Regions from separate parts of the Homo sapiens genome. Here region 2 is linked to region 1. The links come from fine-mapping of genetic effects on gene expression. Tissue or cell type: testis. Region 1 holds a variant in brackets; the other region holds the start of a gene. All regions are shown on one strand. Distances are between the middles of the regions.

Region 1 (5,260 bases):
CCTTCTCTTCCTTGGTCAAGGACCCCCCTCTCTCCACCTCCTACAGTCACAAAAGCAAATGGACAACTCTGGAGAATGCTCTTATGAACACAAAACGATGACCAGTCAACCCAGACACCCTCAAGACAGACCGAAGGTGTTAAGACCACCCTCTCCAACACAAAGTGTTCTAAACTTTATTGTTTTTTTCAAAATAGTGTTGTTGTTTTTTTTTTTTGAGACGGATCTCCTTCTGTTTGCCCAGGCTGGAGTGCAGTGGCACGATCTTGGCTTGCTGCAACCTCCGCCTCCCGGGTTCAAGTGATTTTCCTGCCTCGGCCTCCTGAGTAGCTGGGACTACAGGTATGCGCCATCATGCCGGGCTAATTTTTTGTATTTTTAGTAGAGACAGGGTTTCACCATGTTGGCCAGGCTGGTCTCCAACTCCTGACCTCAGGTGACCCGCCTGCCTCGGCCTCCCAAAGTGCTGGGATTACAGGTGTGAGCCATTGGGCCCAGCCGGAAAGAGTATATTCTTGGTCATTTCTGAGAATTTGCTTTTGGCAAATTGAGCTAGAGCCTAATCATGGCCCACAACTTGGAGGAAAAGTCTGAGACGGAGAAACAGCTGTAGGAGGGGTCAATAGCCCAGGTGCAATCGGTGCATGTGGCCAGGATGGATGAGCTCACTCTGAGCAAATGTGCCAAAGCAAGGGGCCCTGGGGAGCTGGGGGAAGAGCCAACAAAACAGAAGCGAAAGCAGGAGGAAATTCGCCAGGACGGCTCACACAGGAACCCAGAGGATGTAGGGATACAGTGGAAAGGTTGAACATACATGTAACTGGGGCCTTAGAAGGGGAAAAATGAGAGACTAGGGCAGAGTCACTATTTGAAAATATAATGGCTGAAAACGTCCAAAACTGACAAAAGACATCAAGCCATAACCCCAAGTAGCAATGCGAAGCCCAAGCAGGATGAATGCAAAGAAAATCACACCAAGGGGAGAGTCAGCGGCACAAAAAAGAAGAGAGAAAGAAAATCACGCCAAACATCATCATAGCAAAACCACTAAACAACAAAGAAAAACAAAAGATCTTAAAAGGAGCCTGAGGAAAACAAAACTGTGATCCGAGGAGCAACAAGAAGACTGGCAGCTGCCTTTTCAACAGAAACCATGGAAGTCAGAAGGGAATGATTTGTTCAAAATGCTTATTATTTCCAAAAATTAAGTGCCAACTTAGAATTCTATGTCCAGCAAAAAATATCCTTCAGGGCCGGGTGTGGTGGCTCACGCCTGTAATCCCAGCACTTTGGGAGGCCGAGGCAGGCGGATCACGAGGTCAGGAGTTCAAGACCGGCCTGGCCAACATGGTGAAACCCCGTCTCTACTAAAAATACAAAAACTAGCCGGGCGTGGTGGCACATGCCTGTAATCCCAGCTACTGAGGAGGCTGAGGCAGGGGAATCGCTTGAACCTGGGAGGCAGAGGTTGCAGCGAGCCGAGATCTCACCATTGCACTCCAACCTGGGTGACAGGGTGAGGCTCTGTCTCACAAAAAAAAAAAAAAAAAAGAATTCCTTCAGAAATAAAAAGGAATGATGGCATGTGTGAGGCAATAAGGTGACAGTGACTGCATATTTAACATTGTGGACTTGTTTTAAAACATTTTTGGTATGGTATTTAGGCTATGTTAACAAAATGATCCATATTTCAGGTTCACACTGAAATATTTACAGATGAACTGATATAATGTCTGTGCTTTGCTTCAACGCAATAGGGATGAGAGGAACCAGTTCAGAGAGCAGATCAGACCTTAGGTCAGACCTCCTCAGAGATCCCAAGATGCAGGATGCTGTGACATGGAGGAGAAGTCGGGGAAAAAATGGAAGTTCTTGTGCCTTCAAGTTAACACGACCCCAGCCTGCAACAAAGCCCTAAGCAGATACCTTGAGGAAAGTCAGCCCGAGACTGGATCCCTGGGGCTGAGAGGTCACAGAGCAACACTGAAGCCTCTAGGAACCATAGCCTGTTATCTCCAAGCCTCGTCTGAAAGCGAAACATACCAGAACAGTCTTGGGACAGAGGAGCTAGGGTCTGGATGCCCCCAAGGACCTCGTGTCCAGAAGGGAAAGAAAAACATGGAGACCTGGCATATTCACTTCCGGGCGTTTTCAATATGACAGGAGGCTATAAGAAAATTTCACGACTGCCCACTTGTGGATACAGCCAGAAATACAAAGCAAGAGTGAAAGTTTTGCCTACTCGGCACCTGAGTAGCTTCTTTTTTATTCAATTTTTATTGAGGTAAATTTCATGTAACATAAAATGAATTATTTTAAGGTGAACAATTCAGTGGCATTTAGCACATGTGGTGTTGTGCAACCACCATGGCTATTAATAGTTCCAAGACATTGGCCGGCTGCAGTCATGCCTGTAATCCCAGCACTTTGGGAGGCCGAGGCGGGCGGATCACGAGGTCAGGAGATCGAGACCATCCTGGCCAACACGGTGAAACCCCGTCTCTACTAAAAATACAAAAATTAGCCGGGCGTGGTGGTG[C/G]GCGCCTGTAGTCCCAGCTACTCGGGAGGCTGAGGCAGGAGAATGGCGTGAACCCGGGAGGCGGAGCTTGCAGTGAGCCGAGATCACGCCACTGCACTCCAGCCTGGGTGACAGAACGAGACTCCGTCTCAAAAAAAAAAAAAAAATTGTTCCAAAACATTTTCATCACTGCCTCGAAAAAATACTATTTAGCAGTCACTCCCCATTCCCCATCACCCCAGTCCCTGGTAACCACCAATCTGCTTTCTGACTTGAGTAGCTTCTTATCTCTGAACCTCTACCAGCAATTTATGAATGAGAGATGGACAAGACCATCAGGTATGTGGAGACGGTCCTAGAGAAGCTGCTAGAAAGTGACAGACAACCAGAGTAAGGGGTAGTGGAGCACTGTAATGCTGTGGAGAGGAGAGGGCAGCAGGAATGACAAACCCAGGAGGCATTGACTCAGGGAAAGAAGAGGAAGGCAGGGTCAGGTCGAGATCTTGGCCAAATCCCTGAGCTCATCAACCTAGGGTGCTCCATTGATGAATTTATCAAGAGTCATTGGCCGGGAGTGGTGGCTCACGCCTGTAATCACAGCACTTTGGGAGGCCAAGGCAGGTGGATCATTTGAGATTAGGAGTTGGAGACCAGCCTGGCCAACATGATGAAACCCCGTCTCTACTAAAATATGCAAAAATTAGCTGGGCGTGGTGGTGCATGCCTGTAATCTCAGCTACTCAGGAGGCTGAGACAGGAGAATCACTTGAATCCGGGACGCAGAGGTTGCAGTGAGCTGAGATCAAGCCACTGCACTCCCTCCAGCCTGGGCAGCAGAGCAAGACACCACCTCAAAAAAAAAAAAAAGCCATTAACAACTTTCTTTCTTTCTTTCTTTCTTTCTTTCTCTTTCTTTCTCTCTCTCTCTCTCTCTCTCTCTCCCTCTCTCTCTCTCTCTCTCTCCTCTCTCTCTCTCTCCTCTCTCTCTCTCTCTCTTTCTGTTTTTTTTTTGAGACAAGTTCTCACTCTGTCCTCTATCACCCAGGCTGGAGCACAGTGGCACAATCATAGTTCACTGCAACATAAAACTCTCGGGCTCAAGCGATCCTCCTGTCTCAGCCTCCCATGTAGCAGGGACTACAGGCATGTGCCACCAAGTCCGGTTAATACTTTTAAAATTTTTTGCAGAGATATGGTCTCACTTTGTTACCCAAGCTGGTCTCAGACTCCTGGGCTGAAGCAATCCTCCTGCCTCGACCTCCCAAAGCACTGGGATTACAGCCATAAGCCACCACATCTGGCCCCATTTTTCTTTACGATCTTTCAAGGACTTAGTTTGCACATAGGAAGCAGAAAGGAATTGTAAATTCAGTTCCATCAGCATCTACTTGGGGCTTACACACAAGTATTAATTAATTCTCACAACAGTTCCAACAATAGTGGGATCATTTTTACCTCCATGTTACAGATGTGGAAACTGAGGATTGCAAACTTGAAGCACCTCGTCCAAGGTCATTCAGTAAATACCTTGCAGAGAGGAGGCTGGGCCAGGCCTAAATCCAGAATCAGCCCTCCTGGCCCTGCCCTGATGTTCCCAAGACACAGCAGATAGAGTTCTGACATACATGGAGGAGGGAGGCAGCCCAGAGGGCGAGCTGGGTCCCTTCAGGAAGGGAGGAAAAGCAGCATCCAGACTGATCCATGAAACAGGTACTCACAGAACAGCCATCATGTGCCAACATGTCTTTGGGCAGTCACTCAGACACAGTGGCCGACCTGAATGTGCTGATATTTTGACGAGAACAATACAACACAAATGAATACCTACACAAGGGAGAGCAGTTTAGGCGGTGAGTGCTGCGAGAAAGGAAAAAGTAGGGGAGTGACAAAGACTGGTCCGGAGTATATAAAGAGCTCTGACAACTCAACAATAAAAAGACAATCCAAGTTGAAAACAAGCCAAAGACTTATTGGCTGATAAGCACATGAAAAGGGGTTCAGCATCATTAATTGTCAGAGGCAGGGTCACACACCCACTAGTCTCATGGGCTAGGATACTGGTTCTCAACCAGGGGCAATTTGCCGGCCCCCCCCTCCCCAAACAAGGGACATTTGGCAATCTCTGGACAGACATTTCTGGTTGTTACAAATAGGTGGGGCACGGTAGGCTAAAATTGCCCCCCTAGGCTGGGCACGGTGGCTCACATCTGTAACCCCAGCACTTTGTGAGGCTGTGGTGGGCAGATTACCTGGGCTCAGGAGTTCAAGAACACCCTGAGCAACAGGGTGAAACCCCGTCTCTATGAAAAATACAAAAAAATTAGCTGGGTGTGGTGGCACGCGCTTGTAGTCCCAGCTACTTGGGAGGCTGAGGCAGGAGAATTGCTTGAACCCAGGAGGCGGAGGTTGCAGTGAGCCAAGATCGTGCCACTGCACTCCAGCCTGGGTGACAGAGAGAGACTCTGTCTAAAAAAGAAAAAAACAAAAAGCCCCTCCGCAAAAGATATCTGTGTCATAATCCTTGGAAACTGTGAATGTTACCTTCTATGACCAAAAAAGGGGGCTTTCCAGAAGTGGTGAGTTTAAGGGTATTGAGATGCAAAGATTATCCTAGATTATCCTGGTGGCCCTAAATGCAATCACATGTATGAGAGAGAGGCAGAAGGACATTAGACACACACAGACGAGAATGTCATGTGAAGACAGAACACAGGTTTGAAGATGCTGGCCTTCAGGACAGGA
Region 2 (5,000 bases), 56 kb after region 1:
AATTAGCCGGGCATGGTGGCACACACCTGTAATCCCAGCTACTGGGGAGGCTGAGGCAGGAGAATTGCTTGAGCCGGGGAGACGGAGGTTGCAGTGAGCCGAGACTGCGCCACTGCACTCCAGCCTGACTGACAAGAGTGAGATTGTCTCAAAAAAAAAAAAAAAAGTAATCACTAGAAAAGAAGCTACATATGTACATAACATCCAAATAACCAAGAGGAGAAAAAAATGGGACTTGATTAATCAAAACAAAAACAAAAAAGAAAGAAAGAAAGGGGGAGAAAAAAAAACAAGGGCTGGGTGTGCTGGCTCATGCCTGTAATCCCAGCACTTTGGAAGCCAAGGTGGGTGGATCTCTTGAGCTCAGGAGGTCAAGACCAGCCTGGGCAACATGGCGAAACCCCGTCTCTATTAAAAAAAAAATTAATACAACAATTATCCTGGAGTGGTGGTGCACACCTGTAGTCCCAGCTACCCAGGACGCTGAGACGGGAGGATCGCTTGATCCCGGGGATGTCGAGGCTGCCATGATCGCACCACTGCCCTCCAGCCAGGGTGGCAGACTGAGACCCCATCTCAAAAAATAAATAAATAAAAGCAAACAAGAAAAAAAAAGGCTTGAAACATATCTGATAGATAAAGGGCTAATCAACACAATATATAAAGAACTGCAAATCAGTAAACTAAGAGCAAATAACCCAATATAAAGACATTAAAGGGTAGCCACGGACATCTCAGACGACGAAAAACAAAAGACAGTAAACGTATAATAAAACATGTAATTGCAAGGTGATCCGGGAATAGTAAGCGAAAAGCAACAATTAAATACTATTTTCTCATCCACCAGAACGCCAAAAATTAAAAAGCCTAACAATGTCCAGGGCTGGCGAGAATGTGGCAGAAGGTGATGTCACATACCCTGCAAGTGGGAATCTAAACAGATTCAGGGTTTTGGTTTTTTTTTAATCGCAATTAGGTGGCCTGTTAAATTTTTTTTCTTGAGACAGAGTTTTGCTCTTGTTGCCCAGGCTGGAGTGCAATGGCTCGATCTTGGCTCACCGCAACCTCGACCTCCCAGGTACAAGCGATTCTCCTGTCTCAGCCTCCCAAGTAGCTGGGAGTACAGGTATGTGCCACTACACCCAGCTAATTTTTTTGTATTTAGTAGAAACGGGGTGTCTCCATGTTAGGCTGGTCAGGAACTCCTGACCTCAGGTGATCCACCCACCTTGGCCTCCCAAAGTGCTGGGATTACAGGAGCGTGTGCCACTGTGCCCAGCCACTTTTTTTTTTTTTTTAGACGGAGTCTTGCTCTGTCGCCCAGGCTGGAGTACAGTGGCGCCATCTCAGCTCACTGCAACCTCCGCTTCCCGGATTCAAGTGATTCTCCTGCCTCAGATTCCCATTAGCTGGGATTACAGGTGCCCACCACCGCCTGGCATGGTGGCTCACACCTGTAATCCCAACACTTTGGGAGGCCGAGGTGGGCAGATCACCTGAGGTCAGGAGTTCGAGACCAACCTGGCCAACATGGTGAAAACCCGTCTCTACTAAAAATACAAAAAATTAGCCAGGTGTGGTGGCGGATGCCTGTAATCCCAGCTATTCAGGAGGCTGAGGCAGGAGAATCGCTTGAAGCCAGGAGGCAGAGGTTGCAACGAGCTAAGTTCGAGCCACTGCACTCCAGCTTGGGCGACAGGGCGAGACTCCGTCTCAAAAAAAAAAAAAATGTAAACACACATTCCCTTTAACCCAGCAGAACATGGGAACCCAAGGGCATTCAGCCTGTGGCGCGACCAGGCGGCCTGACTTGAGCTCACGTAGAAATTCGGCATTTTTGAACCAAGAGACAGCACTTGGGATCCGGAATGTCTGGACTTGGGCACGGCGCTGTGGAGCTGGCGCCGTTGGGAGCCATGCGAGTTCTGGGTCGGTAGGTCACCTCAGAGGTGGGGAGAAGGTTCTCTGAGACCGACATGGGGGCTAGTGCTGGCACCACCGGACATGGGGCATTTCAGACACAGGGCGAGCACATTCCCTAGTTACCAGGGTTCATTCGAGTCAGTCACGTCACAGGCTGGCAATGGGCTAACTCCTCCTCAACAATCACACGGGGCTTGCCTCATAGAATGTTTTAAAAAAGGAAAGGAGGCTGGCGCAGGCGCCAACCGTCTCAGAACCCTGAGCACTGCCCCACCCCCACCCTGCCCGCCATAGCCTGGGCTGTTGTGGGGGAGGGGTGACCATTTATCACGAAACAAAAAATTGCGCCACAGCAGCTCCCTCCCTCCCCCACCTTTACGGTTGCAGCTGCACGTCCCACGTGCAGCACCACCCCCTGACACGTGCGGCACCACCCCCTGACACGTGCGGCACCACCCCCTGACACGTGCGGCACCACCCCCTGACACGTGCGGCACCACCCCCTGACACGTGCGGCACCACACAGCTAGTGCCGGAACTTTTTGTGCAGAGAAAGAAGACCCTGCACCCGCGCGGAGGGAGCCCTTTTGAGATTGCAGGAGAGAAGATGAGAATGGGACTATTTTCAATAACTGTGCACATGCAAGTCACAAACATTCCAGATCCCTTGACTTGCTTGCGGAGGGAGCGGCCGGCGGAGGGAGCGGCAGGTGGAGGGAGTGGCACGAGGCATGCGGAGGGAGCTGCACCGACATCACATAAACGCACTGGGCAGCTCGCAGGCGCCATTCGCTCTTCAGACGCCGGAGACGTAGGAGTGGGTCTTCAGACTCCAAAGGGGTTGGACTAATGGCGGATGCTGAGGCGAGGGCTGAGTTCCCGGAGGAGGCCAGACCTGACAGGGGCACCTTGCAGGTGTTGCAAGATATGGCCAGCCGCTTGCGAATCCATTCCATCAGGGCCACATGCTCCACGAGCTCCGGGTAAGTTCTCCTCATTGAAGTCTGGGTCATGCAGGGCCACGGGCCCGGTGGCTTCAGGCCTGGTGGCCATGAGGCCGTGTGGTGAAGGGAGAGCCTTCAGAGGCACAATGGGCTGTGTCGTAATGCCCTGTCTTGGGCTGTTGGGGCCCGGTCGAGCACCCTAGATGGCAGCGAGGCACTATTCCCGCCAACCCAAGGGTCGGTCGGTTGGTTGGTCAGCCGCGGGTTCTGGAGCCCGCCCCTCAATTTACCCACGGCCAAAGTTCTGGAGGTCGCCAAGATCTCCAGTTGGGAGACAAAGGATCCAGACTGGACTGAGGTGGCGGGAGAATGTCACTGGGATCAGATTGGGCTAGCTGTGGTTTTCATTTTAGCGGGGAGCAGGGCTTCCCTGGTAAGCAGTTGTACTGGATCCCCGAGGGTGAATGAGCGACTCTAACCCAGGATGTGAGGATAAAAAGCAATTAAAATTCCAGCCTGGGCAACATGGCGAAACCCCGTCTCTTACCAAAAAATAAAAATAAAAAATGAGTCGGGCATGGGGGCGCACACCTGCACTCCCAGCTATTCGGGAGGCTTGCTTGTGCTGTTGGGTTTGCTGGTATGCAGTTGATGGTTTTTGCATCAGTTTGAGGGATATTGGTCTCTAGTTGTATTGTAGTATTTGGTTTTGGTATCAAAGTGTAATGCTGGCTTCATAGGATGTTTCAAAGTGTTCCATCTTAAATTTTTTGGAGTGGCTGGGTGTAGTGGCTGCCACCTGTAATCCCAAGCACTTTGGGAGGCCGAGGCAGACGGATCGTGTGAGCCTAGAAACTAGTTCGAGATCAGCCTGGGCAAGATGGCGAACCTCTGTACAAAATGTTACAAAAATTAGCTGGGCGTGGTGGCACGTGCCTGTAGTCCCAGCTACGCGGGAGGCTGAGAGGCTCAGGTTACAGTGAACTGAGATTGCGCCACCGCACTCCAGCCTGGGCAAGAGCGAGACCGTGCCTCAAAGAAAAAAAAGTTAAACCCAGCTGAGGGCGGTGGCTCACGCCTGCAGTCTCAGTACGTGGGGCCTGAGGAGGGAGGATCGCTTGAGCCCAGGAGTTCGCATTCAGCTTGGCAAACAGTGAGACCCTGTCTCTAAAAAAATAAAGTAAAAGAAACCGGGAATTGAGTACGAATTGGAACAAAAATGAGCTGTTGAATTTGCTAGTATGCGGTTGATGGTTTTTGCATCAGTATAAGGGATATTGGTCTACAGGTTTTTTTTGTTTTTTTTTTCTTTTTTTGTTTTGAGACGAAGTATCACTGTCGCCCAGGCTGGAGTGCAGTGGCACGATTTTGGCTCACTACAAGCTCCGCCTCCTGGGTTCACGCCATTCTCCTGCCTCAGCCTCCGGAGTAGCTGGGACTGCAGGCGCCCGCCACCACGCCTGGCTAATTTTTTCTGTTTTTTAGTGGAGACGGGGTTTCCCCGTGTTAGCCAGGATGGTCTCGATCTCCTGACCTCGTGATCCGCCCGCCTCGGCCTCCCAAAGTGCTGGGATTACAGGCGTGAGCCACCGCGCCTGGCCTGGTCTATAGTTTTGTTGTAGTATTTGCTTTTGGTATCAAAAGTGTAATGCTGGCTTCATAGGATGAGTTTCAAAGTGTTCCACCTTAAATTTTTTGGAGAGGTCGGGCGTGGTGGCTCCAACCTGTAATCCCAGGACTTTGAGAGGCCAAAGCAGGCGGATCGTGTGAGCCTAGAAAGTTCGAGATCAGCCTGGGCAAGATGGCAATCCCCTGTGCAGAATGTTACAAAAATTAGCTGGGCGTGGTGGCACGTGCCTGTAGTCCCAGCTACGCGGGGGACAGAGTTTGCAGTGAACTAAGATTGTGCCACTACGGCCTGGGGAACAGAGGAAGCGAGACCTTGTAGAGAAAAAAAAATTTTTTTTTGAGGAGTTTGAAGAAGACTGTTGTTAATTTTTCTTTAAATGTTTGGCAGTAATTACGAATGAGGCTTTTATTTATTGGGCGTTTTTTTTATTACTGCTTTAGTCTCCTTACTAGTTAGTTGTAGGTCTATTCAGATTTTCTTGTCCTGATTAAGTTTTGTGAGGC

Which allele goes with the higher level. Alleles are on the strand shown, and positions count from the first base shown. SD is a standard deviation of normalised expression in the study named.
With allele C in place of G in region 1, the expression in testis of the gene that starts at base 2,708 in region 2 is higher (small effect, 0.09 SD a copy in GTEx).

The links. PIP is the estimated chance that this variant, and not a neighbour inherited with it, causes the effect.
Region 2: TKTL1 starts here. The variant in region 1 is fine-mapped to the expression of TKTL1 in testis (GTEx, PIP 0.96).

What each region holds. Positions count from the first base shown.
Region 1 is chrX:154,237,202-154,242,461 of GRCh38, forward strand. It overlaps the pseudogene TEX28P3. Among named protein-coding and RNA genes, the nearest start is that of OPN1MW3, 18 kb to the right of the region's middle. The variant C/G (reference allele first, on the strand shown) is at 2,540.
Region 2 is chrX:154,293,088-154,298,087 of GRCh38, forward strand. It overlaps TKTL1 (transketolase like 1), which reads left to right and starts at 2,708. Exons shown (of 13, transcript NM_012253.4): 1 at 2,708-2,906. The coding sequence starts at 2,773. TEX28 (testis expressed 28) reads right to left here and starts at 2,037. Exons shown (of 5, transcript NM_001586.3): 1 at 1,943-2,037. RefSeq lists an enhancer at 1,899-2,400.